Linked DNA regions of Homo sapiens. The protein of the gene in region 1 interacts with the protein of each later gene in a biochemical or structural test. Each region holds a gene or a part of one and is shown on either strand. Other genes may lie near its edges.

Evidence for each region.
Region 2: the proteins of SH2D3C (region 1) and APBA2 interact in a test that uses a peptide from one of them, tested with the Homo sapiens proteins (one large-scale study listed by IntAct).
Region 3: the proteins of SH2D3C (region 1) and SNTG2 interact in a test that uses a peptide from one of them, tested with the Homo sapiens proteins (one large-scale study listed by IntAct).
Region 4: the proteins of SH2D3C (region 1) and SIPA1L2 interact in a test that uses a peptide from one of them, tested with the Homo sapiens proteins (one large-scale study listed by IntAct).
Region 5: the proteins of SH2D3C (region 1) and SNTG1 interact in a test that uses a peptide from one of them, tested with the Homo sapiens proteins (one large-scale study listed by IntAct).
Region 6: the proteins of SH2D3C (region 1) and PTPN3 interact in a test that uses a peptide from one of them, tested with the Homo sapiens proteins (one large-scale study listed by IntAct).
Region 7: the proteins of SH2D3C (region 1) and LIMK2 interact in a test that uses a peptide from one of them, tested with the Homo sapiens proteins (one large-scale study listed by IntAct).

Annotation. Positions count from the first base shown.
Region 1 is NC_000009.12:127,751,167-127,754,666, reverse strand, and holds part of SH2D3C (SH2 domain-containing protein 3C), read left to right. Parts: intron 1-3,366; coding exon 3,367-3,495; intron 3,496-3,500. UniProt on the Homo sapiens protein: Acts as an adapter protein that mediates cell signaling pathways involved in cellular functions such as cell adhesion and migration, tissue organization, and the regulation of the immune response.
Region 2 is NC_000015.10:29,115,895-29,118,815, forward strand, and holds the end of APBA2 (amyloid-beta A4 precursor protein-binding family A member 2), read left to right. Parts: intron 1-1,167; coding exon 1,168-1,239; 3' UTR 1,240-2,421; downstream 2,422-2,921. UniProt on the Homo sapiens protein: Putative function in synaptic vesicle exocytosis by binding to STXBP1, an essential component of the synaptic vesicle exocytotic machinery. May modulate processing of the amyloid-beta precursor protein (APP) and hence formation of APP-beta.
Region 3 is NC_000002.12:1,265,349-1,268,848, reverse strand, and holds part of SNTG2 (gamma-2-syntrophin), read right to left. Parts: intron 1,485-3,500; coding exon 1,278-1,484; intron 778-1,277; coding exon of another isoform or gene 754-777; exon of another isoform or gene 1-753. UniProt on the Homo sapiens protein: Adapter protein that binds to and probably organizes the subcellular localization of a variety of proteins. May link various receptors to the actin cytoskeleton and the dystrophin glycoprotein complex.
Region 4 is NC_000001.11:232,462,634-232,466,133, reverse strand, and holds part of SIPA1L2 (signal-induced proliferation-associated 1-like protein 2), read left to right. Parts: intron 1-717; coding exon 718-1,294; intron 1,295-3,500.
Region 5 is NC_000008.11:50,792,907-50,796,406, reverse strand, and holds part of SNTG1 (gamma-1-syntrophin), read right to left. Parts: 3' UTR 1-3,500. UniProt on the Homo sapiens protein: Adapter protein that binds to and probably organizes the subcellular localization of a variety of proteins. May link various receptors to the actin cytoskeleton and the dystrophin glycoprotein complex.
Region 6 is NC_000009.12:109,407,808-109,411,307, forward strand, and holds part of PTPN3 (tyrosine-protein phosphatase non-receptor type 3), read right to left. Parts: intron 2,609-3,500; coding exon 2,422-2,608; intron 2,270-2,421; coding exon 2,192-2,269; intron 571-2,191; coding exon 514-570; intron 1-513.
Region 7 is NC_000022.11:31,257,298-31,260,797, forward strand, and holds part of LIMK2 (LIM domain kinase 2), read left to right. Parts: intron 1-993; coding exon 994-1,129; intron 1,130-1,823; coding exon 1,824-1,933; intron 1,934-2,591; coding exon 2,592-2,780; intron 2,781-3,500. UniProt on the Homo sapiens protein: Serine/threonine-protein kinase that plays an essential role in the regulation of actin filament dynamics. Acts downstream of several Rho family GTPase signal transduction pathways.

The DNA.
Region 1 (3,500 bases):
GAGTGAGGAGCAGGAAACGCGGGGGATGCTTCGGATGCCAGGGTTGGGGCCAGAGCGCCCGCCACCCTCCCGCCCTCTAGGTGGGCTTGGACATGCCTGGGGCGCGGGTCTCTCCCAGCCCAGCTGGCCGGGCAGTGCAGGACGGCGCCGCGGCGGTGAGAGGGTTAAACGGAAGGGGGTGGAGGGGAGGACCCGGACCCCGCCTCTCTGCGGAGCATCCTTTGGGGATGGCTTTGCTTGGGGTTGGGACGCCGAGGGGAGCTGGAGGGGATGCTGGGCTCGGGCTGGCGGGAAGGGGTTAAGACCCTGTCCGGGGGTCTCCGCGCTCCTGCCCCCTGAGCCCCCTGGGAGATGCCAGGCGCGTCGGCTCTTCGCTCCCCCAGGCTCACACACGCTCGCGGAGCCCGCCTGAAGGACTGCCCCGCCGGCGGCGGAGCGCAGCATCCCCGCACCGGCCAATCAGGCGCGCGCAGGCCGGGAGGCGGTGAGATCATCTCTGGCCAATAGCAGGGCGCCGAGCGCAGGGATGCTGCATTCGCACCCCAGCACCCCCAACTCTAGGGAACTGGGGGCTCCCAGGTCGAGGTGAGATCAAGGCACAGGGACCCTAGGATTCCTCACCCTCAGGTGTGTGGGAGGACCAAGTTGGTCCCCCCAAACTCTCCGTGACCAGTGATTAAGCTGGAAAAGGGGAGCCCAGTCTCCCAGCCCCTTTAACGGATGAGGCTGCCCAGGCCCAGAGAGGGGAAGTGACTGGCTCAAGGTCACACAGTGGCAGCCTTGGGGCGGTTCTTCAACATCCAGCCTCCTCCCTCCTTTGCCCACGTCCCTCTAGCTCCAGCTGTGGAACTGGGGGAAGGTCTCAATCGCATGCCCTTTGTCAAGGAGGACGCCAGAAGGCTGAGGTCTTGGTTCCCTTTTTCCCTGTGACGCCCACTCTCCCCTTTCCAGGGTTTGGTGTGATATGAGGAAAGAGGACTAGCCTGGTGTGAGCACCGCAGAGTGAGAGGGAGAGAGACCAGGGACCCCCAGAAGTAGGGGACCCCTTGGAGAAGTGTAGGTGTCTGAGAAGGCCCAGATCCTAGCCCAGCCCTGGGCCTCTCTGCCCTTCGGGGGCATCGGTTTCTACCACGGCCGGAGGATGTGCAGAATTCCCACTCCCAGGCCCCGCCTTTCTCCTGAGCACCTGTGCAAACCGCCCACTCCCACCATCTGTCCCCAGAGCCCTGCAGGCTCCTCAAGGTCCAAATTTTCATGGGTCCACCACCAAGCTGCTCCTGCCCCAGCCTTGCCCACTCAGAGCATGTCCCAATCATCCTTCTAGGATCTCGGCCAGGAGTCCTCTCTGACCCCTCCGCCCTGCTCCCCCACATGAATCAATGGCCATCTAAACTCCCTTTCCCCCACTCCTTCTGCCCACGCCTTATCTGCCCTGCCACTGCCTGGAAAACCCTAGGCTGCTCTCCATAAGTGGACTAAACCTGCCCCAACACTTCCAAACCCCTCCATGGCTCTGCTGTGGCCTCCAGATAAACCCCAGCTCCCTGAGGCAGCCGTGCCACACCTGCCCCTGCCCCCACAGCCCCTTGGAAGCTTCTTATTCATCTCCCCTCCCTCCCCTTGGCTCTGCCCGTAGGACCCTGACTTTGCCGCTCTCTCCCCAGAAGCTCTTCCCTGTCCACCTGTCCACCTGCCCTCTCCACCCTGGTGCTTTTGCTTGGCTCACCCAGTCCTTCAGACCTCAGCAGAAACACCACCTTTTCAGGGAAGTGATTCCTGACTCTGCCCCCTGACTAGTTTGGTGGTGCACCATCTCTGTGCATCTCGGGACATTCAGGAAACCTGGAATTGATTGTCAGTGTCTGCAAGGCCTCCCCCAGGGCAGAGGCCACCTTGGGTCCTCAGCCCTGGCACAGGACCAGGATAGGGACCTAGTCAATGTTGAATGGAATCAGAGATTCTAGATATCTCTGACACTGGGAATCATGGTGTCTTGGGAGCAATGCAGACTAGGCTAAACCCAGGCAGTATGGGAGCAGAGGGGTGAGGGATGTAGCCACAGAATTAGGAGGCGAGATCTGTGGATAGTCTGAGGAGGCAGGGAGTGGACTGGAGGACCTTCGGACTCTCAGGAGCGAGGGGCCCCAGGGAGAGACTCACCTGGGATGAAGGCCCTTTACTGCCCTCCCTCATCTGTCCTGCCTTCTGGCCAGCGCTGGGGTCTGTCTGTCTTGGAGTAGCCATCTTTGGGGCCTGGAGGTGGGGGAAGGAGAGGAAGAACCATCCCATGTCCTCGCAGTGATGAGGATGTCCATGTGCTAGTAGTACTCTGGAGTGCTGTCTCTTTTCATCTTCGCAGTGAGGTGAGGCAGGTTCTGTCACTGTACCCATTTTAATGAGGAAGAAATTGAGGCCCAGAGAGCTCACAAGGCACAGCCAGGATTGGGCTGGGCTCTGGTGGGCGTACACCTGGCATTAAGGGCTTCCTTTCCTCTTCCCTTAGGGCCCCTGGGATCCATCAGCCTCCAACTTCAGGCCACAGTAATCAAGAAACCAGGAGTTTCTGGGCCAGGTGGGAGGGTGGAGTACTGGACATTATCTCCCTCAGTGGCCTTGGGCTTCCCTGCTGGGCCATGGTCTCCCCATCTGGGTGAGGATTGCTGAGGATTTCAAGGGAGAAATGGCCTTGGAAATTGTAAGGGGCAATGCAGATGTCTGTTTGGGGTCCCCGTGTCCCTGTTTATAGTCCCTTCCCCACCCTTGCATTGTAGAATGCACCATCCCAGAACGTATCCTTGTCCAACCAGTTCTGTGGTTTTGTTCATAGCTTTTCCTGCAGTTACCTGCTGCCTTACCTCCAAGATTCACCTGTAGAAATCCCCCTCCAACACTTCAAGAACAGTTTGGTGCCCTTGGTATATAATGAGTGTTTTCTTACTGCCATCTCCTCCAGGAAGGCTTCCGAGACCCCTCTGTCGTGCCCAGGCTTAATCCCGCTTGTAAAAGCCACCCGGCTCTTTGCCGCTGTCCAGCGCTGTGGTGCTGACCGCACTCTACTCAGAGGCTCCTGTTGCTTTTGCCTCTCCTCAGACTAGGCACTGCCTTGAGGGCCGGGCTTGGTTTATATATCACTGCATCCACCCCTGGCATATAGCACAGGGCCTGGAATGCAGCTGGCATTGTTTTGTGGAAGGAATTGAGATTTCTTTACTCTTTCTGGGACCCATGGGAAAGGGTCTGGCACCTGTGCCTTAGTGTTCCCAGAGTCCCAGGATAGGAGGAGTTCATCCATGGTAGAATGAAGTTGGGAGGGAAAGAAGAAGGAGACTTTAAGTTGGATGCCAACTCTTGCTGTTTTCTACCCAGTTCTCCAAGGAGAAGTACATCCTGGACTCATCGCCAGAGAAACTCCACAAGGAATTGGAGGAGGAGCTCAAACTCAGCAGCACGGATCTCCGCAGCCATGCCTGGTACCATGGCCGCATCCCCCGAGAGGTGAG
Region 2 (2,921 bases), on another chromosome or scaffold:
GGGCAGATGCACGGCGGCTGCACCCCGTGGGGAGGCCAGCATGCCTGCGGCAGCTGACCCTGGCAGTGCGAGGGCCCCCCATCCGGAGGCCGCAGCCTAGCACAGTCCCGGGCAGGACAGGGGAGAGCGTCGTGCTCAGGAGAGGAGAAGTGGGCAGTAGAGCTCCCTTTCCGTTCTTGAAGCAGACGTTTAGAGTCTGCTCCTTCCCAGTGTCCGCAAAGAAGGATTACAAGGCGCGCCACCCACACGGTTGGTCTCCCTGGGGCGGTCTGAGGCCTTGCTTGTATACCCAGCTCCTTTGGAGTCAGGGCTCGAGGCCAGGCCCCAAAGGGTCATTTGCTCACCGATCCCCAAAGGCTAAGAACTTGAGGTGCCCTGGGCCCCAGCGAGCCTGTTCCCAGCCCCCAGCACACTTTCCTGGCCCGTGTGTGTTTTGTAAGAAGGGGTGTAGGCCGGGCGCGGTGGCTCAGGCCTGTAATCCCAGCACTTTGGGAGGCCGAGGCGGGCGTATCACGAGGTCGGGAGATTGAGACCATCCTGGCTAACACGGTGAAACCCCGTCTCTGCTAAAAAATACAAAAAAATTCGCTGGGTGTGGTGGCGGGCACCTGTAATCCCAGCTACTGAGGAGGCTGAGGCAGGAGAATGACATGAACCCGGGGGGCAGAGCTTGCAGTGAGCCGAGATTGCACCACTGCACTCCAGCCTGGGCGACAGAGCAAGACTCCGTCTCAAAAAAAAAAAAAAAAGAAGGGGTGCGTGTGTCTTCCCCCATTGAGCTCCTCCTCAGTGAAGCAGAGTGCATCCCTCGCAGTTTCTGCCGAGGCCTGGCCACCCCCAGCCAGCCCCAGTGGATGGGCAAACTGTTGTCACCACTAGAAGTCCAATTTCTCACCCCTCGGGTGTCAGCTGGACTGGAAGCAAAACTAGCACTCAACTGTATTGACTCCTCTGGAGCCAGGGGTGGGGACCTGGAGTCTCAGTCTGCTGCATCTGGAAGGCATCATAAGTGTCCCCAGGCCTGGGCAGGCTGGCCTTCCTCCTTCACTCTAGGAGATGGGCATTTGAAGCAGAACTCTGGGGGGTTTGCCTCTGTCCTTTGCTTTCACCTGATTGTGGGAGGGGAGGTGGGAGGGCAGCGGCTCAGCCTCCTGTTTCTGTCCGCAGATCCACATGAAGACCATGCCCGCCGCCATGTTCAGGCTCCTCACGGGTCAGGAGACCCCGCTGTACATCTAGGCCACCCCAGCCTGGCCACGCAGCCAGGACACCGGGCAGGGCCGCCCGGGCCCAGAGGAGCTGGGAGCCGGGCCGCAGACTTGACCCCGACGCCACAGCCCAGCCACGGACGCTGGCTCCCCAAAGGGTGTGCCCTCACCACCCACTTGATTTTTTTCATTTTGCCAAAAAGGGGTATGTCTTTATCAAAGGAGAGTCACAGAACAAATGTTTGTTTGTAAAGCGTTCCAAGTATTTTGCCACGTTCTGGACTGTCTTCTCCCTGCACAAGCCAGGGTGTGTCTCGGTAGCTGTGCGTGGTGTGGAGTGTGTGTCTTTCCTCCCTGAAGCTGTGCGGAGCGAACTGGCGCCTCCGAGGGACGCGGCTCCCGGGGCAGGGCAGCCGTCACCCCTGCCTCCCGCCCCCTTGGCTGGGACGTCTGGGGTCCTGTGGGGCCCCCACAATGGTCCCAAACAGCTGCCTCTGCCACTGACTGCAGGGACACGGGCAGCCTGGCTCCCAGGACACGACTTGTAATGAAAGTTTGGGGACATGTGATTGATTGATTGATTGTAAATAAAGGATGATGGCCACAACATGAAAACTCCATATTTATTTAGATGCTATTATTACTGTTTGGACTTTTATTTTGGCAGGCTTTTTTCCAGACTCTAGGGTTTTCCAATGTGACTAATGACCACACCTGCCTCTCCCGTCGTCTCTTCTGGGCACCCTCCCACCCGGCTGCATACCCGGGCAGGGCTCCCACAGAGACAAGGAGGGCACAGGTGTCTGCCCCCTCTTTAAAATCGATCTACACACATCCACGCACATGCGACCCCGAGGAAACGAAACCCACTCTAGAAAACGCGACCTTGGCCGCACCTAAAGCAGCCAGCCGTGAGTGCAGACCCCTTGGCCAGCGTGGCGCAGTGGCCCTGAGCAGTAGTGGCATGTGTGTAGATCAAGTCGGATCTAGTCCAGCTCGGTTCATTAGCGATCCATGTAATCTGACGTCATCTTGTCTCGAAGTCTCTTTTTTTGGCCCAGGCCTTGAAGAATACACTGTGACTTAAGAAGCCTTACCACGCAGTAACTAAAGCTTTAGGATGACTGTATTCGAGGAGTGCCGTGTGTTGCATGCAGCTACCCGTAGGAAGACTTCGCGCATATCACTAATAAACCTGAAGTCGTGATGAAAAGCCGTGTGTGTGACTGGTCTGTTACCTCAGCGGCGGGTGCCCGCCTGTCCTTTCATTCACAGCTTGGATGCGGCTCTGCAAATTCACTATGCGGTGGCAGCCACAGCTGCTCTGTGCTCCTCCTGGATCCTGAACCTTGGAAGCTGTCACTAATGAGTTCGGTGGGTGGGTGCTCTGGGCACCAGGTGTCAGCTGGGCAACGCCCCGCTGCAACTGGAGGTGCCAGCAATGCTACCAGGTCACGGGGTCAGCGCCAGGTTCTTGACCCACTTGCCCCAGCAGGGAGACACGTCCGCAGAGCACTCACTAATGGAATGAGGGAGCCAGGGAGCCTTGGGCTTCTTCAGATTTCAACGTAAATGGCCCCTGGGAAAGGTGTGCATGCGTGTGCGTGTGTAAAAGCCGGACCGCCCATCCCAGCACCCTGTCTGCACCTGTGGGTCCTTTGCAGCCTGTCTAGAGTGACAATTCTGGCAGCTCTGCCAGCACTTACCTTTCTT
Region 3 (3,500 bases), on another chromosome or scaffold:
AATGATTACTGCTATCATCTAAAGAAAACAAGCAGAAAGGTCACCTTGTCCCAGAAACGCTCTTTCACTTTGCCTTTTAACGACTTGAACCTTTAGTGCTGATGGTTTCTAAGTGGCTAAATGCCACTATACATTTGAGTAAGTCCCTGAGATGAAGGATCCTATGTTTAGTAATTTTCTTTCCAGCATGTAATGTTCTATAATGGTTAATGAATTGGATGCTTCAAATATAAAGGTTACTTTAAGCATCAGGAATCAACCATAATTCCAATTTAGGGTGCCCAATTTGAGGGGAAAATCACAGCAGCCTGGGATAAATGAGAATAAACATTGGCATCAGTTTCTATGAAGATCTGGGTGTGACTTCATTCTGTGGACTAAGAGATCTCAGTGTGCATTAGTTACAGGGAAGCTTCGTGCTCTGTGATGGCATGCCAAGGAGCCTGGATACATTTTGACAACGTGAATGAAAGATAAATAACACAGAATAGTTTCACATTCAAGGTATATATGTATATTTAAATGAAGTAGCCATCTTTAGTTACTAAGTTCACACTCAGCATTCTCCGCGCTCAGCCAGGCGGGAGCCCTGGACTTTGGTGTGAAGTCAGAGCTCCTCTGGGATGCGCTGCCTCATTTATCTCCTGTCACTCTTCATTCCTGCAGCACACATCCTCCCTGAAGGATCATCCCGCTATTTAGGATAAGGAGGATTATAATGCATTCTTCCTCATCCCTTCACATGGTATACATTCAAATTTGTGAGTGATGTATTTGCTGTTGTCAGGAAGAGAAAAGCAATTCAGACACACAAGCTGTTTTATATTCTCCTTCGGACCATCAAGTTTGAGAGGAAGAACCATTAAAGTGCCTTAAAATATTACAAACATCCAAGTAACTGCACGACACATTATACTCATTTGTAAGCTAGGTGTTCTGTCTCCCGGAGCACAGGCTAGAAGTGTCATCACTTCTCAGGAACTTGAGCGCCACATCGGTGGAGTCCCTTCCTGGAAAGCGATGCAGCCCGTTCCTCACATTCAATGTAGACACAGACACAAAATCCTCTCCTCCCCTTCCCTTCCACTACAGCTCATATTTATCCACGGAGCGCATGACTCCGTGCGAACGATCATTTCCACACAGTAGCTCCGGTGAAAGATTCTCACCTTCTGAAGATTCCTCTTTTCCCCCGATAAACTGCTACATATTCCCCAATGCTATGTCTCAGACACCCGAGCAGGTGTAGGTGAGAAGAGTGTGAGTTGTTCACTTACCCCGGTTCTCTGAACTTCCATGAACGTGGCTCTTTGGAAGGACTTCTCCCACATGGCCAGCTCGCTGCCAAGCTCCACGTTGAAAACATGGCTCTTCCCATGGCCGGCCACGATGCTGAAGCAATAGGGCCTCTGGTCCTCAAAGTCAAAATCTTGAAGACCCAGATACAAGTTTGCTTGCAACCAGCAGTCCTCTGTGAGCCAGAACTGAAAAACAGAGCATGGATTGGAAACGTGCAGCGCTGGAAGGTCATTCCCATGCTGAGGGCCCTGGTGTGGGGAGAAGGCAGCGTTTGCGTGATCTGGGAAACGGTCTCCTGGGTGCAGACAAGGAGGCAAATTCAGAGCAATGAGCCCTCTCATGCACAGCTGGTGCGGAAGTGGTCCACAGACAAATATCTGTAAATAAATTTTGTCAAATGCTTAATTCTCTGTAAGTGCCTTTCCCTTAAAATACTGGTCACCACACACTTTCCTGTTTTACGGTGAAGAGAAAGATGAAGCTGGGTGTGGTGGCTCACGCCTGTAATCCCAGCACTTTGGGAGACTAAGGTGGGTGGATTGCTTGAGCCCAGGAGTCTGAGACCAGCCTGGGCAACATGGCAAGACCTTGTCTTCACAAAAATAAATGAATAAATAAAATACAACAAATTAGCCAGGTGTGGCAGCACACGCTTGTAGTTCTAGCTATTTGGGAGGCTGAGGTAGTAGAACGGCTTGAGCCCAGAAGCCCGAGGTTACAGAAAGCCAAGATCACACCACCAATGCACTCCAGCCTGGGTGACAGAGGGAAACCCTGTCTCAAGAAAAAAAAAAAAAAGATAAAGATGAAAGTCTTGAGACATTGATGCTTGTGTTTATCATAAAACCAGAAAACACTGAAAATACCACCACCACTCTAACTAAGCGTGCCCCCTGCGCCTCCGAGTCTCTATAGAATTACTGGCTCTTCCTCTCCTTGCGGGTTCATTGTCCTGAGATAAAGGACCGAGTGCCCAAAACGCCTCTGAAGCATGACAAGGCACCCGGCCACCCAGGAGCTCATTCTGCCAACCCAAAGGCCTGACAAAGGGAATGATGTAATGATGTTGTTCCATTTCTGGTTAATCGTTTAACCCAGAGATGTAAGTTACTTACAGCACGTCTATTAATCACTCGGCGATTCGGATGCTGCCAGCCTGTGCTGCATGGAGCAGCCTGGGGAGCTCCCCACTTCTTTCCCCCATCTGCAAGGTTGCACCCCACTTCGGGATTCATTTTATCAAGGGCAGAAGAGAAAGACTGGGGGTCCCAGTTGTCACAATTACTAGGTCAACAGCATGGAGGTGCATGGTGAACGCGCACTCAATACCTGGCTGGCACCTCTCTGTCTCTGTCTGTCTCTCTCTCTCTCTCTGTCTCCATTTCTATGTCTCTGTCTCTCTTTGTGTCTCTTTCTCTCTCTCCATTTCTGTCATTCTGTTTCTCTATTTTATGTCTGTTTCTCTGTCTCTCTCTATCCTTCTCTCTGTCTCTGTCTGTCTCTCTCTGGACCCACCTCAGTTCTCAGCTCACCCATTCATTTACTGGTCCACAGATCCACCCTGAAGAGCCCCCACCAGACACCTTCCTGGGACGCTGCACCCCAACATCAATTTTGCTGCACCAGTCTCTCCCCAGTGAAGGGAAACAAGGGGAGACACCTGGGCTGGGGTTTCCAAAGTCCTGAATGAGAATGTGGTGTTCACCCACAGCCCTGCATATGGCAGCAGAAAGGAAGGGGAGCTGCCCACCTGCTGGGTCTTCCCATCATGATTCTGAGATATCTCCATTCACTTGTGCCAACCAGCCAAGCTGGACAGTCCCCACTCACACTTACGCTCAAGGTCCAGTCCCAAAATCCACATGAACTCAGCAGTTGGCCAAATAGTTTTACTTGAAATATGCTGACACATGCACTCTAGGCACAGGTTTGAGGTAAAAGCTACGACTGGTGTGTCTCAGGTGGGCCTTCTGGACTCTCCGGGGGGATGCCCTGGCTCTCCTGGCCCCGCAGATGGCTCTGCAGGATGACCCTCTGATCATGGAGAGCATTGCACATTTATCCCTGTGCATCATCCAGACATCAAATGCCTTGTGGTGTGTGCACGTGAGAACATGTGTGTGTGTATGTGTGCACATGAGAATGTGTGTGCACACATGAACATGTGTATGTGTGGAAATGTATGTGAACATGAATGTGTG
Region 4 (3,500 bases), on another chromosome or scaffold:
CCCCACAGAGTTATAGAGTGCCAGCCTGCTTATTCCACATGCTGTGGATGTGTTACCCCCTGTATTAGTTTGGTAGCACTGCCGTACTAATGCCACAGGCTAGGTGGCTTAAACGGCAGACTTTTATTTTCTCAGAGTTCTAGAGGCTGGAAGTCTAAGATCAAGGTGTCAGCAAGGATTGGTTTCTCCTGAGACCTCTCCCCTTGGCTTATGGATGGCCGTCTTCTCCTTGTGTCTTCACATGGTCTTCTTTCTGTGTGCATACATCCCTGGTGTCTCTTTGTAAGCCCAAATTTTCTCCTCTTATAAGGACACCAGTCAGTTGGATTAGGGCCCACCCGAATGGTTTCACTTAGCCACCTCCTTAAGGGTCCTTTCTCCAGATTGCGTCACATTCCCAGGAACTATGGGTTATCTTGTCAACGTGTGGATTTTGAGAGGGACATAATTCAGCCCATTACACCTCCTGTCTACTAAGTTTAAAGCATTTTGCTTAAACAACAATAACAACAAACCCTGGGTATGCAGCAATTAGGAGAACAAGAACTTGCAGAATAAACCAGTTAAGTTGAAAGTGTGTGTGTATGTGTGTATGTATATGTGTGTGTGTGTGTGTATGTATATGTGTGTGTGTGTGTATATATATGTCAAATTCGGAAAGATACATATTATGGTATCATAGCTCATCTCATTTTGTTTCTGTTTTTACTTCCTCAGTGTTGGAGTTTCCAGATCAAAAGATGTGCCACCATTTGGCCCACCGATTCCCAAAGGTGTAACTTTTCCAAAGTCAGCCGTGTTCCGGGACTTCCTTTTAGCCAAAGTAATCAATGCAGAAAATGCAGCCCATAAATCAGAAAAGTTTCGAGCAATGGCCACTCGAACGAGGCAGGAGTACTTGAAAGATCTGGCGGAGAACTTTGTCACAACCGCCACCGTGGATACCTCTGTGAAGTTCAGCTTCATTACGCTGGGTGCGAAGAAAAAGGAGAAGGTAAAGCCAAGGAAGGATGCCCACTTGTTTAGCATTGGGGCCATCATGTGGCACGTGATAGCCCGGGACTTCGGCCAGTCTGCTGACATTGAATGTCTTCTCGGGATCTCCAATGAGTTCATCATGTTGATTGAAAAGGATTCCAAGAATGTTGTATTCAACTGTTCCTGCAGGGATGTGATTGGGTGGACATCTGGATTAGTGAGTATCAAAGTGTTTTACGAAAGAGGAGAATGTGTCCTCCTGTCCTCGGTAGACAACTGTGCTGAAGACATCAGGGAAATTGTTCAGCGATTAGTAGTAAGTACATGTTTTCTATTTTCCCGCCATCCTTATGTTTTCAATTCCAGATTCAAAATAACTTTCACTGGGGAACTGCTACCATGATTATACCAATTAGGGAATGCATTACTATTTGTTACAGATACAGAGCTTAATTTTAAATGCTGGGTCCTTTTGGGGAGTTGTTGAATACATGAATGGTGGAGAAGCAACCATCATAAATCAATTGGAAAAGAAAAGTTAAGCCAACCTGCAAAAGAGAACATTAAGATGTATTTTAGTAGCATTTGAAGGAAAAACAGAAGTGTCTGGGTAGAATGTCTGTTTATGGAGGCTGACATAACATACCTTCCCAGTGGGTAATTAACAACAGAATTGCTGTTGACTGTATGAATGACGAGTCCTATCTGCAGTTTCACCCCTGCATGTTTATACAGCAGCTATTTTTGTTTAATGTGCCAGATTAAATATATTATTAATCTTAGAGCCACAGTTTCTTAAGGGAGTTTTTCAGAATTACACATTAATTTAGAAAGGCTTTTGAAAAGTTAGACTTAAGAAAGATTTTCATGTATGTGATTTTTAGTGCAAAACCCTTATATTTTATCCATGGTGTTCAGTAGTCATATTTCTGCTCCCAATTTTAACAAAGTAAGAATCAGATTTTAGTTTGAGCATATAAAATAAAGTAGTAAGAATAAATCAAACTACTTCTAGTTTTTATTTTTGGTAATATAAGAAAAAAACATGCTTTGACAATAGAATTTCTTGTGTGTAAATCTTCCCCCAAGAGGGATGTAATTTTTTTTTTAATTAGAAAAGGTTTAGTTCACTATGGATCATGAGAAAAGGAGAAATTATATCCATTTCTTGCCCCCTTTCCTCCCACCAAAAATATTTCCTCCCTTTTGTTATTAGAGACCATGTATAAGAGAAGGTAAAATCAGGGCAGTGTCTGCTAGCCTTGGAAAAGTAATTTCATTATTTGTGGACTCTGTTTACAGTAAAGGGCCTCAGTGTGTTCAACAGTATTATCAGGTATACGTGAGCAAGCCTAGATAAGAGTTTGGGGTGATTAAGTAAATGATTAGTTTATATACCTAGAGAATTGACTTGAATTATACTGGTGAGTCTCTGGATGCATTCTGCTTTTGCTAATTGCAAATACTTCTTTTTAGCATATCCACCAAATCATTATAATCTGTGCTTCTGAAAATACAACACAAATACCACTTCACCAACCACAAAAATGTACTTTCCCTGGATATTTACACATGGGCTTTTATACATTTGCTATTCGATGGACTCCATCCTATTTTCCTAGAAAAGTGTATTGTCAGTGTGACCAAGATGCACAATATTACAAATATATTTTAGGAATTATATTCTGTGTCTAGGATGACTTGCAACATGAGCTGTTGGAAACAAGCCAGACCAAAGACTGTTGAAGGGATTAGATCGTAAGGGTTGATGCAGAGTGGTAGTAACAGAAATGGGAAGAAAGAGAAGAATGCAGTCTTAGTGGAGATGTTGGGAATGCCTGCCCGTTTGGCAGATGGTTAACTCAGTATCCATTCTCAGGTGGTGGAAAGTGGAACTAAAGGGTCTGTCTTGCAGGTAACAGTACAGGAGCAGAATGAGAGTTTGTTCCTAGAGGGCCAGGCAGGGCTCACTTCACGGATGTGCAACCCATGCAGTTGCACAGGGACCCGCTCTCAGAAGAGTTCGTGCTTGGTTGAATGCTCTGCCATTGCCATCTTGAAATACTTACTAATTTTTTCATAAGGAGCCTCGCATTTTGATTTTTCTTGTGGCCCCACAAATTACATAGCCAGTCCTGGCTTGGAGACTACAATTTTCGTGTGATAATTGGGTCCATGGAAGAAGTCCAAATACATGGAGAACACCTTACTTCAGACTTTGGGGATGTTAGGAAGCAATAAACAGAGGGGATAAAGAAATAGCAAAAAGACAAAGTAGGGGAGGTGGCAGGTGATTGGAGGAAATGAGCAGAAGAGCCAGAGCTGGAGGACTCTGGAAAGGCTCAGCCAATAACTCTTCAGCCTGATACATGGATGATAAACTTCACCTGATAATCGCATTGATATTTGAAAGAAGGCTGGGTACATCTTATGTGTCGTCTTTTGATAGGATTGCTTAGAACAAAGTTGAAAAAGAAGTGACCAAAATTTATTTGTGTTGTGCCTATTACAGAACTACTTCT
Region 5 (3,500 bases), on another chromosome or scaffold:
TTTTAAAGTATTCGGTAGTAAGAATAAACAATAAAGAACAATTTTAGAAGTATGAATAAAGCAATTTCATAAGGAGAAATTATGAGCACAGCAATATTAATAGTAGCAAAATCTTTGTTATTAGTATCCGAACATCTACACTTACCTTAAAAAGTTAAGCACAAGATCATCCTTGTGCTTTTAAAGCTTCTCCACACTGCTGATTTCTAGCAGTAATTCTAAATTATCGTTAGGATTATTAATTTTTCTCAGTAATAAATCAAGCTTTTCTTAAATCCAGCATTCAACATAGACAAAGTTCATGATCAAGCTTCAGCACTGTAAATGAGGGAAATGTTGATCTATAAACTAATGCACCCAAAGGAAAATTTCTCTCTTTGCATGGCTAATATGGACTTGACATTTATTTTCAAGTAATTGCTTTCTTTTTCTTGCTGAATGACAGCTTTATGAGCGAAGATTTCAAAATTATAAGTTGGTACATGCCTGAAATATGGGCAAGAAATAATTACCTGATTATCCTCCCATTTTAAAAAAGCTGGATAAGTGTTCAGATATACATTACACTTACACTATCTATTAAACTATTTTTTAAATAAATACTTGTTGCATTTTAACAAATTATAAATGCCCTTTCTGTAATATACTTCGACTTAGATGAATTGTTATTCTTTATCAGGCAAAAGACATTATTATAGTAGTTAGCAGTTTTCAAATGACTTTGAACTTCATTCTCTGACCTAAATACCTACAATATTCTCCATTAAGCTTGTGTTATGTACACTGTAATGAACCCTTTAATGATAACACTTACACACTCACACACATACACAGACACACACCCAAACACACATACACGCTCACACATACCAAGGCACTGGAGGGGTTAACACATTAGCATTTTGCTGTTAAAATGTGCTTAATGTACAAACTAGGATTTTATGAATAAATCTCTTACATGTAAACCTAAATTATATGAGAGATAGAAATTTTTAAGTGTTTTTGTTCATTTCAAAGCTTTCTCATTCAAGTAGTCCAAGTTATAACAAATGCCAATGACTAATCACCACATTGTAAAGAAAACATTAAATACTAATTGTTAAACTGATGAAAACGAGAATAGTATTTTGTTACTTTTTGGCTGTTGTACTAATCATGTTAAATAAAAATCACGGCTTATGTTTTTTATCAATAGTATCAAAAATATTCATAATGGTATTGTCATAAGTTTTTAATCAAGCTACATTTTACAACGTAATTTAAAGTATATTAAATGTATGTACACAAAACATTCTTCTAATATAATTAATGGTCAGCATTTCATTATATTTATATATATATACACCCATGTATGCATATAAATACATATGTAGGTGTGTGTGTATTCTCTGAGGAGATATATATTTATACATATCTCATTGTGCACCTTTTCCTTCGTAACACACATGAGCATAGGCTAAATTTTCATAATAACACTAAAAAGATAGCTAATGGTTAATAGGTTTTTTAAATTCTAAAATGGAACGTTTACAAAATTTCACAATTTTTAAATCATTCTATTACAGGTAGGTAAACTGTTGAAACGTTTTTCTTTTGCTTATGGATAATTAGCCCATGTCATATTGCCTTCCAGATTGTGGACACATTCATGTAACCCCAATATGGGGCACACTGAGATTCAGCTCTGGTTGGAAGCAGAAGTTCCATAATGAACCACTTGCCACAGCTGAAAATTCTAAGTTCGATGTATCCCACTGCTTTTTCTCCATAAGTTCAGAAGTGGCCTACTACTGAAGGCTGCTTTTGGTGGGTTTCAATTTTACAATGACTGTTGTATTTGATCAATATAGTGTGCAATAATTCTAAAGTTCTATCCTAATTACAAATGTGTACTTAGTTTTACGGTCAAAATACATTACACTGAAACTGTTTATTGTAATTTGCCACAGTTCTTTGGGTAAGGTATGTTAGATTCAGTTTAACATTTTCCCAGGGACAATTATAAACCCTCACTTTTTCTTTTCAATTTGATGTATTTACAAATTAATCTGATGCAAAATAAATTAATGAATCATGAGTATAAAAACAACTTGATATTAATTTTTTAAATTAGTAAATCTGTCCTTTATAGAAATCACTTTGTTTCCTTCTTGAGTGATTTTTAAAAACATATTTGAAAAAAAAAATTGAATCAATTTATTAGATACTTGGTTATCTCCACAAGGACACACATAATACTTGGTTTACCTGGGAGCATGTGTATCAATAAAAATTTTTTTTTTTTTTTACATACACAGCTGACTTTTTAAAATATCTCAAAAAAGCTGTACTGAAGGACAGAGACTGTGTTCCATGTTATACAACTAGTTGAATAATACCTGGAATCTGAGTAAATTGCACACCTCTAAGGCTTTCAAATTTCCCAGCCTTTCACATTTACATTCTTAGGACAAAATACCTAAAACAACCTGCATAGTTGGCATTACTTAATCACTTTCCATGACAAGGGAGGTTAAAGAATTTTAACTTTTATCTTTAAATATCACCTTTGTTTCTCATAAAATAGTACTAAAATGAAAAAATGTCATTTAATTAACATCTATAATAGCTTTGGGACTGTTTTCGGGGGACATTTTAGTTCATGATTAACTAGTAGACTTCGGATTACAAAGAATTGTTTCTCACACCATATTTGTTTATATTATTTTCTCTACAAAAGGTTTTGGGTTCACTGAAAATTTATGAAACTTTAATTTGATAATAAATCTTATTAGGTAAAATACAAATCTCTTTCAAACCAAGGAAGAAATGAGAGGTTCATGAAATTTTCCATCACTCATAATTAAATTAATACACTGTTGGCATATTTGATTGACTTTGGCAGCTAATAAGACATTTCAATAACAGTGATCCAAGGGAGAATAGTCCATTTCACATTGTATCTATCATGGGTCAATGTAATTATCCTTTGGAAGTTCTTCGGAATATTTACAATAAGATAAAAACAATTGGAATGCCAGTGTCAAATCATGGGATGAGAACACAAGGGCAAATTTACATCAGCAAATTAAAGTGCATCCTTCTTTGATGAGATTTTTTTGCATGCTCCTTGCTGATTTATGGTTTTTAACTCTTTTATGTCCCTCATAATACAAGATAGGGCATTTGTTTTCCTATGACTCTGCCCAACATGTACTAGTCATACAAAATAATCTAAAATACAGAAGTAATCATTTAATAAGTATTTTTATTCATAGGTAGCTTACTATTTTTATGTTATTTACATACTTCTTCAAATAATTTATTCTTTTGTCTCCACTTTTGGTGAAAGCAATACACTTACTGGTACAAAGCAACTGAGTGAGAACAAGCTGTTCTGTTCATGTAGTATATTTCACAGATGTCATCCAGAATAGAAGTGTTTTTGAGGTTCCACATGACCTTCTTTTTCTGCCGAAATTTTGATTTGCCTCCACTGTCGACTTGGTGATGTTATGGTT
Region 6 (3,500 bases), about 18 Mb from region 1:
AAAGTGCTGGGATTACAGGTGTGAGCCACTATGCCTGGCCTAAAAACAATAAAATAAATTTGAAAGAAAAACAAAGCAAATGCTCTTCTTAGGAGGCCTACACAGATGACAAAAGGGGCACTGGTGGAAAGATGGTGAGAAGAGGCACAGGGCCCACGTGCCCACTTAGAGTGAGCAGAACAGCAGACTGCCTAAGTTTCCTTCTCTTGAAAAGGACTTCTCAAAATTGAATGCACACTAACCACTCAAGGCTCTTGTTAAAAATGCAGATTCCGGTTCAGCAGGCCTAAGCTGAGGCCAGAGATGCTGCATTTCTAATGAGGTCCCAGGTAACATGGGTGCTATGGCTTCAAAGACCACACTGAGCCGCAAGGTTATAGAAAACATGGTGATGTATATCTAAGCACATTCTTTGCTCTGGCAAAAAAAGAAACAGGACTCAGAAACAGAAACCTGTTAGAATTAGGGGGAAACAAACAAACACGAGGAATAACATGGAATGTATTTACTTACAGGTGACTCTGGGTTTATCCTTGATACCACAAGAGGCATCTTTTGATCCACTCCTCCCTGTAAACATTTTAAAATAAAAACAAAACAAAGTTTTTTAAGTTAAACAAACAAACAAACAAAAAAACGAGTAGCTCACAGCATCAACAACATGGAGGTACCAATAAATGTGAGTCTTTGGTACAGGGAGGCTTCAAACTTCACTATGACTGATTCGAATCACACGTCATTTCAGAAATATGGAACAAATTCCTGACCCCTCTGGATCCAGCGGGCTGACCAGGACTCTGTTCAGAAGCCTCCCTCTGCCATCCCCACAGTCCATGAACTAACAGATACACTCAGAGAGAAGCTCCTCCTTAAAAACGCAGATGCCCCCAGAGAGGGACTCCACAGCATGTCTTCGAGTGCTGCTAGAACAAACCTGCACGTTGTGCACATGTACCCTAGAACTTATAATAATTAAAAAAAAAAAAAAAATATATATATATATATATATATGGGCTTTATATATATATATGGGCTTTAATATATATATATATGGGCTTTATATATATATATATAGGGGCTTTCAGCAGAGGCGAGCGAGGCCTGGGAAGGGGGCACACCCTGTGAGCGCATCTGGCCTGTGAGCGCTGGTCCTCAACACAGCTGCTGGGGCAGATGAGGCTGTGCATGATGGCAGCTGGGGGGTAGGCGACCACCTGCCCTCACTTTGTCCTAGAGTAGGGATGAGTAAACGTTTTCTGTAAAGGGCCAGAGAGGCTTTGTGGGAGTGAGGGCTCTGATTCAACTGCTCAACTCTGCAGTCATTAACCCACCAGTAAACAAATGGCTGTGGCTGTTACCAAAAAAACTAGTTACAGAAACAGATGGGATTTGGCCTGTGGGTTTAGTTTGCAGATCCTGCTTAAAGGTGCCTGGAGGAGAGTGGTGGCCCTGCAGGTTGAACTTGAATTGTTTTTCTCTTATCAGCTTTAGCAATGCTGAGGGGTTCTCTTAATAGCATTCCTGAAGTGGGTAGATCTGTTTGCCAACTGTGTGCCCTCATTTCTGGGAACCTCAGTATTCATTTGCAAAATGGGTTTAAAAATACTGACCTTACCACTTGTTATCAGAACTTAAGAAGGTGCTATGAATCTAGTGGATAGCCAATGCCAGGCACAGAGCAGGCACTTGGCCTTCGGCAGCTGTTAAGGCCACATTAAAAAAAACCTCTCAATTCTAGGCTGGGTGCGGTGGTTCACGCCTGTAATCCCGGCACTTTGGGAGGCCAAAGTGAGTAGATTGCCAGGTGTTTGAGACCAGCTTGGACAACATGGTGAAACCCCATCTCTACAAAAAATATGAAAAAAATTAGCTGGGTATGGTGGTGCATCCCTATAGTCCCAGCTGAGGTGGGAGGATCACCTGAGCCTGGGGAGGTCAGCGCTGCAGTGAGCTGCGATCGTGCCACTGCACTCTAGGTTTGGGCGATAAAGTGAGTTTTTAAAAAAAAACAAAAAAAACCCCAAATATCTCAAACCAAACAAAAACAAAAAAAACCCCCAACTCTCAATTCTGAGGGTTGAACCAACTTCCTTATGTAGCTCAGGAATGCAGCACATTTGTAATGCAAATTAAAAACTCATTGAAAGATTGCTTCCCAGCACAAAACTTCCTTTATAAATACACAACATACCTTAAGATTAAATCCAAATTTTCCATCTTCATCTGGTGTGATACGGATCAAGACTAAGTAGCTGTCACCATTATCATTCTGGAAAACGGTTTGAAAGTGGTCATTTGCATCACATCTCTCTCCAGCAGTTGGTGATAAGATATTTTCATTTAGTTAGAGCTACTCAGCTGCCCACAAGAGGCCGGGAAGCCCTGGGTGTGTGGATCACCCGGCTGCCTGCGCTCGCTCACCTTGTCACAGTAGTACTGGCTGGCGTCCTCGGTGGAGCCCCCTTTGGTCACCCTGTGGAAGTCATCTAAGAGCTGCTGATCAACGCCGTCAGGTGAGCAGGAGCCTGGAGCATTTGAAGATGGAGACACAGAACTGGATGACTTCTGGGTCAGGTAGCTTTGTGCCGGATTGTTCTCGGATAAACTCCTTCATCATGGGGAAGGAGGAGATATTAATAACTGGGTTAATATTTTATTAGAGCAAACACTACTGACTGTAGGGGCCTGGCAGCTGGGGGCTGTATGTTTCCCTGGAACCTCAGCTGCATAGGTTGTCAGCGGGATTTGAGTACACCCAGGGCCCACTGACCACCCCTGACCGCATCTGGCCTAGACACTGTCACATGGTTTTGGGGAAAAGGGATAGGAGGCAGGGTGGATCTGGAAACTGCTGAAAACTTTGCTCCCTTCCCCGCTGCTTTAGAAGGGTGACAGGGAAATGTGTCCAGCTCCTCTGGTGGTTTCATTACTGAACCAGGCTCTGCCAGGCAAGCTCATGCAGATGCACAGCCCATCCCTTCTGAAAGCTTTTTTCCTTCTGTCTCACTTCTGCGGATGGTTCTGCTTCATAGGACTCTTGCCTCCTCAAAGGAAACAGGACTGTTGTTGTTGTGCGTTCAGGAGAATTTATATTATTCCTAGTTGGCATGATTTGCCTGTGACATCCATGAACTGCCACGCTGAGATCTTGTTACATTTTCCTCTATCGAATATAGTTTCTTCTGTATCGTGGAGCTGCACTGTCTAGTATGGTAGCCACTAGTTATATGTGGCTACTTAAATTTAAATAAATTAAGACAAGAAACCAGCCATACTTCACATGCTCACTAGCCATATGCGGCCAGTGGCTCCCGTATGAGACAGTGCAGTCAGAGAACATTTCACCACGGCAGGAAGTCCTGCTGGACAGCGCTGTCTTAGAGAGTTACAGATGATGAAAACGGAACAGAACTTTGTGGTCATTTGTTCTAACTCCCAGTTCACAGATGAAGAAGCTGAGGTCAGGAGAGGCTGAGTAACTTGCCCAGGGTCACATGGCT
Region 7 (3,500 bases), on another chromosome or scaffold:
ATGTAGTTCAAAGAACACCTACATACCTTTCACATAGATTCATGATTTGTTAATGTTATGCCACTTTGTATATATCTCTCTCCCTCTATCTGTATACTTTTATTTATTTATTTTTGCTGAACTATTTCAGAGTAACTTAAAGGCATCTTGATTTTACCCTTGAACAGTTCAATATGTTTCTGCTAAGAATTCTCCTATATAAGTCAGATATCATTACATCTAAGAAAATTCACGGCAATTTTACAATATAATATTATAGTCCAAATCCATATTTCCTCAGTTGTTCCAAAAAATGTTCATGGCTGTTTCCTTTTTTAATCTAAATTTGAATCCAAGTTTGAGGCATTGTATTTGGTTGCTGTGTCTCTAGGGTTTTTAAAATCTGTGCCTTTTCTTCTCCCCATGACTTTTTAGAAGAGTCAAGACCGGTTATTCTTATAGAATAACCCACATTCTAGATTTGCCTGATTAGTTTTTTTATACTTAACGTATTTTTGGCAAGAACATTACATTGGTAACGCTGTTGGTGATGGGTCAGTTTTGAAGAGTGGAGATGATTAAACTGCTTTTGTTCATTGAAGTATCTGTCAAGACCAGAGATCCTTAACTGGTGCCATAAATAGGTTTCAGAGAATCCTTTATATATACACCCTGTCCCCCACCTAAATTATATACACATCTTCTTTATATATTCATTTTTCTAGGGGAGGCTTCTTGGCTTTTATCAAATTCTCAGAGGGCCCCAAGACCCAAAGAGGTTATGAAACACTAGTCTGTCCACTGAGGCAGGCAACACAGAGCTGGTTTCTGGGGCCTTGTTCAGTCTGAACCAGCTTCCCTTGGGGAGATAGCACAAGGCTGTAACTTTGCCCCATCTTGGCTTTGGATCAAAGAGGACTGTCCATTTTGTTGTCATACCTAGGAACCAGGGACAGCTTATGTGGCCTGGTTCCAGGGATCCAGGAGAATTTCAGTTCTTGTCTTGCCTTTCAGGTGTTCAGAATGCCAGGATTCCCTCACCAACTGGTACTATGAGAAGGATGGGAAGCTCTACTGCCCCAAGGACTACTGGGGGAAGTTTGGGGAGTTCTGTCATGGGTGCTCCCTGCTGATGACAGGGCCTTTTATGGTGAGTGAATCCCTTCATATCTGCCCCTCTTGGTCTTCAGAGTCCATTGACAGTGCTTCCAGTTCCCTGTGGCCTGTTAATCTTTTAGTCTTTCCATCAGCCAGGGCATCTCCCTTTATTTATTCATTCATTCAACTAGCAGGTATCAATTGAGCACCTACTAAGTGAAAGGTAAGATCCTTCCCTCAAAGACTTAATAGTTGAACGTTGGGAGTGGGAGGAGAGGCAGGCAGAGAGGAGACACAATATAGTTGGATAAGGACCTCCAAGGAGAGTGTTACAGGCTGAGAGGAGGATATACTTAGGTTGTCTTTAGGGAATCAGAAAAGGAGACTCTGGAATAGGCTGGCAGAGAGAGGGGCTACCTCCTATACCTGCTCTGGACAAACGACTTTAAGCATAGTGACAGACTTGCCAACCCTGTATTGGAAGAACTGATCTTTTTTAGTGGGGATGATTACTTCTGGGGATTTCTTCTCATAACTGAGACCAAAACAGTTTTGTGCAGTCTCAGAAATGACAGGAGGTACCAATCTGACACTTCCTTTGGAAGCTCTAGGGCAGAGAGTGAAAGAGTGGATTTTGACGGGGGCCTTGCTTGGAGGTCATTCACCCACCCCTGTCCTCACTCCAGCAACAGTGATAACTCACTTCCTTCCTCCCTTTGTACACCCTTCTCCCCACCTGCTCACAGGTGGCTGGGGAGTTCAAGTACCACCCAGAGTGCTTTGCCTGTATGAGCTGCAAGGTGATCATTGAGGATGGGGATGCATATGCACTGGTGCAGCATGCCACCCTCTACTGGTAAGATAGTGGTCCTTTGTCTATCCTCTCCCATATAAGAGTGGCTGGCGGGGAGGGACAGTGGCAGGGTGAGTTGGGCAGAAGGAGTGTTAGGGTAGTCAGAGCATTGGATTCTTACCACAGCAGTGCTCTTAACCAGCTCTTTAACTTGTAAGCAGAATGATTTACACATGTCTCTACCCTTTTTCCTTACCAACCTTGAAAATGTCTTCACTCTGCCCTGCAATCCTCCCAGTGGGAGGCACTCTTCAAGGACGATCCCAGAACATTAAAGTCAAAGACCCCTTAGAGCTCACCCTGTCCAACCACCTTGGTTGATAAAAGAAGTCAGCCTGGGGCCCATGGAATAGAATAGTACAAGGGCAAGGTTCTCATTGTGAGTCAAAGGTAGAGTGAAGAGAACCCAGACCATCTCACCCCAACCCAGGCCAGTGTTTTTCCAAATATACCACTTGCTGCAGATCTAGCTCAGCACCCCCAGTCCCAGCCCACCCTGAGAACCCAGGCTCCTCATTCTGAGCAGCCAGCTAGAATCATGACAAAGAGGGTGGTAGTGAGACTATGGGTACTGTTGCTTAAAGCCACATGGTGCAGTGGTTGCTGGGGGGCTTCTGTGTGGGACTCTAGCATCTTATTCCCCCCTGTGCCCTCTCCCCAGTGGGAAGTGCCACAATGAGGTGGTGCTGGCACCCATGTTTGAGAGACTCTCCACAGAGTCTGTTCAGGAGCAGCTGCCCTACTCTGTCACGCTCATCTCCATGCCGGCCACCACTGAAGGCAGGCGGGGCTTCTCCGTGTCCGTGGAGAGTGCCTGCTCCAACTACGCCACCACTGTGCAAGTGAAAGAGTAAGTATTTTGAGAACCCTTCAGCAGGGGTTCTTGAGCAGAGTCTGTAAATGGGCCTCAGAGGGCTTAGACCTCCAAAGTCTCATGCAGAACTCCCTTTATTCTCATCTCATATCTTTCTCCTGGACCCCACTATGCTGTAACCGTACCTGGGCCTTGGCACTTACTGTTCTCTCTGCCCAGGCTACTTCCTACCCGATACTTAAGGCAAGAATCACTCACCTTTCAGGTGTCAGGTTTCAGGTCATGTTTGCTCTTTGAAATCATCTGGCTTGATTATGTGTATTAGTTGTTTATCTTCTATCCCCTCCACTAGAATGTAAATTCCAGAAGAAACTTGCTGTCTTATTCAGTGCTGCATGCCCAGGGCTTGGAAGAGTACCTGGCATATAGTAGGAGTTGATTGATTATTATTTTGTCAGTCGAGAGAATGAATGGAGAAAATGTGGTCCATGGCCCAAAAGAAGTTAAGACCCTATCCTAGATTCAGGCCAGAGACCAGATGGAGAAAGAGTCTGTGTCTATCTAATACCAGTAATGTCGTACCTCTGGCCGCTTACCATGTAAATATTGATTGTGTATCTACCATGTGTTGGACACTAGGCTAGTGCTTGCACAGCAGGTGAAAGATACTAGAGTTTGGGAAGTCAGGAGGAGCTAAGGTCTGTTCTACAACCTTATTAGATGAAGAGGAGAGGGAATTGTGTTCAGGGCAGAGGG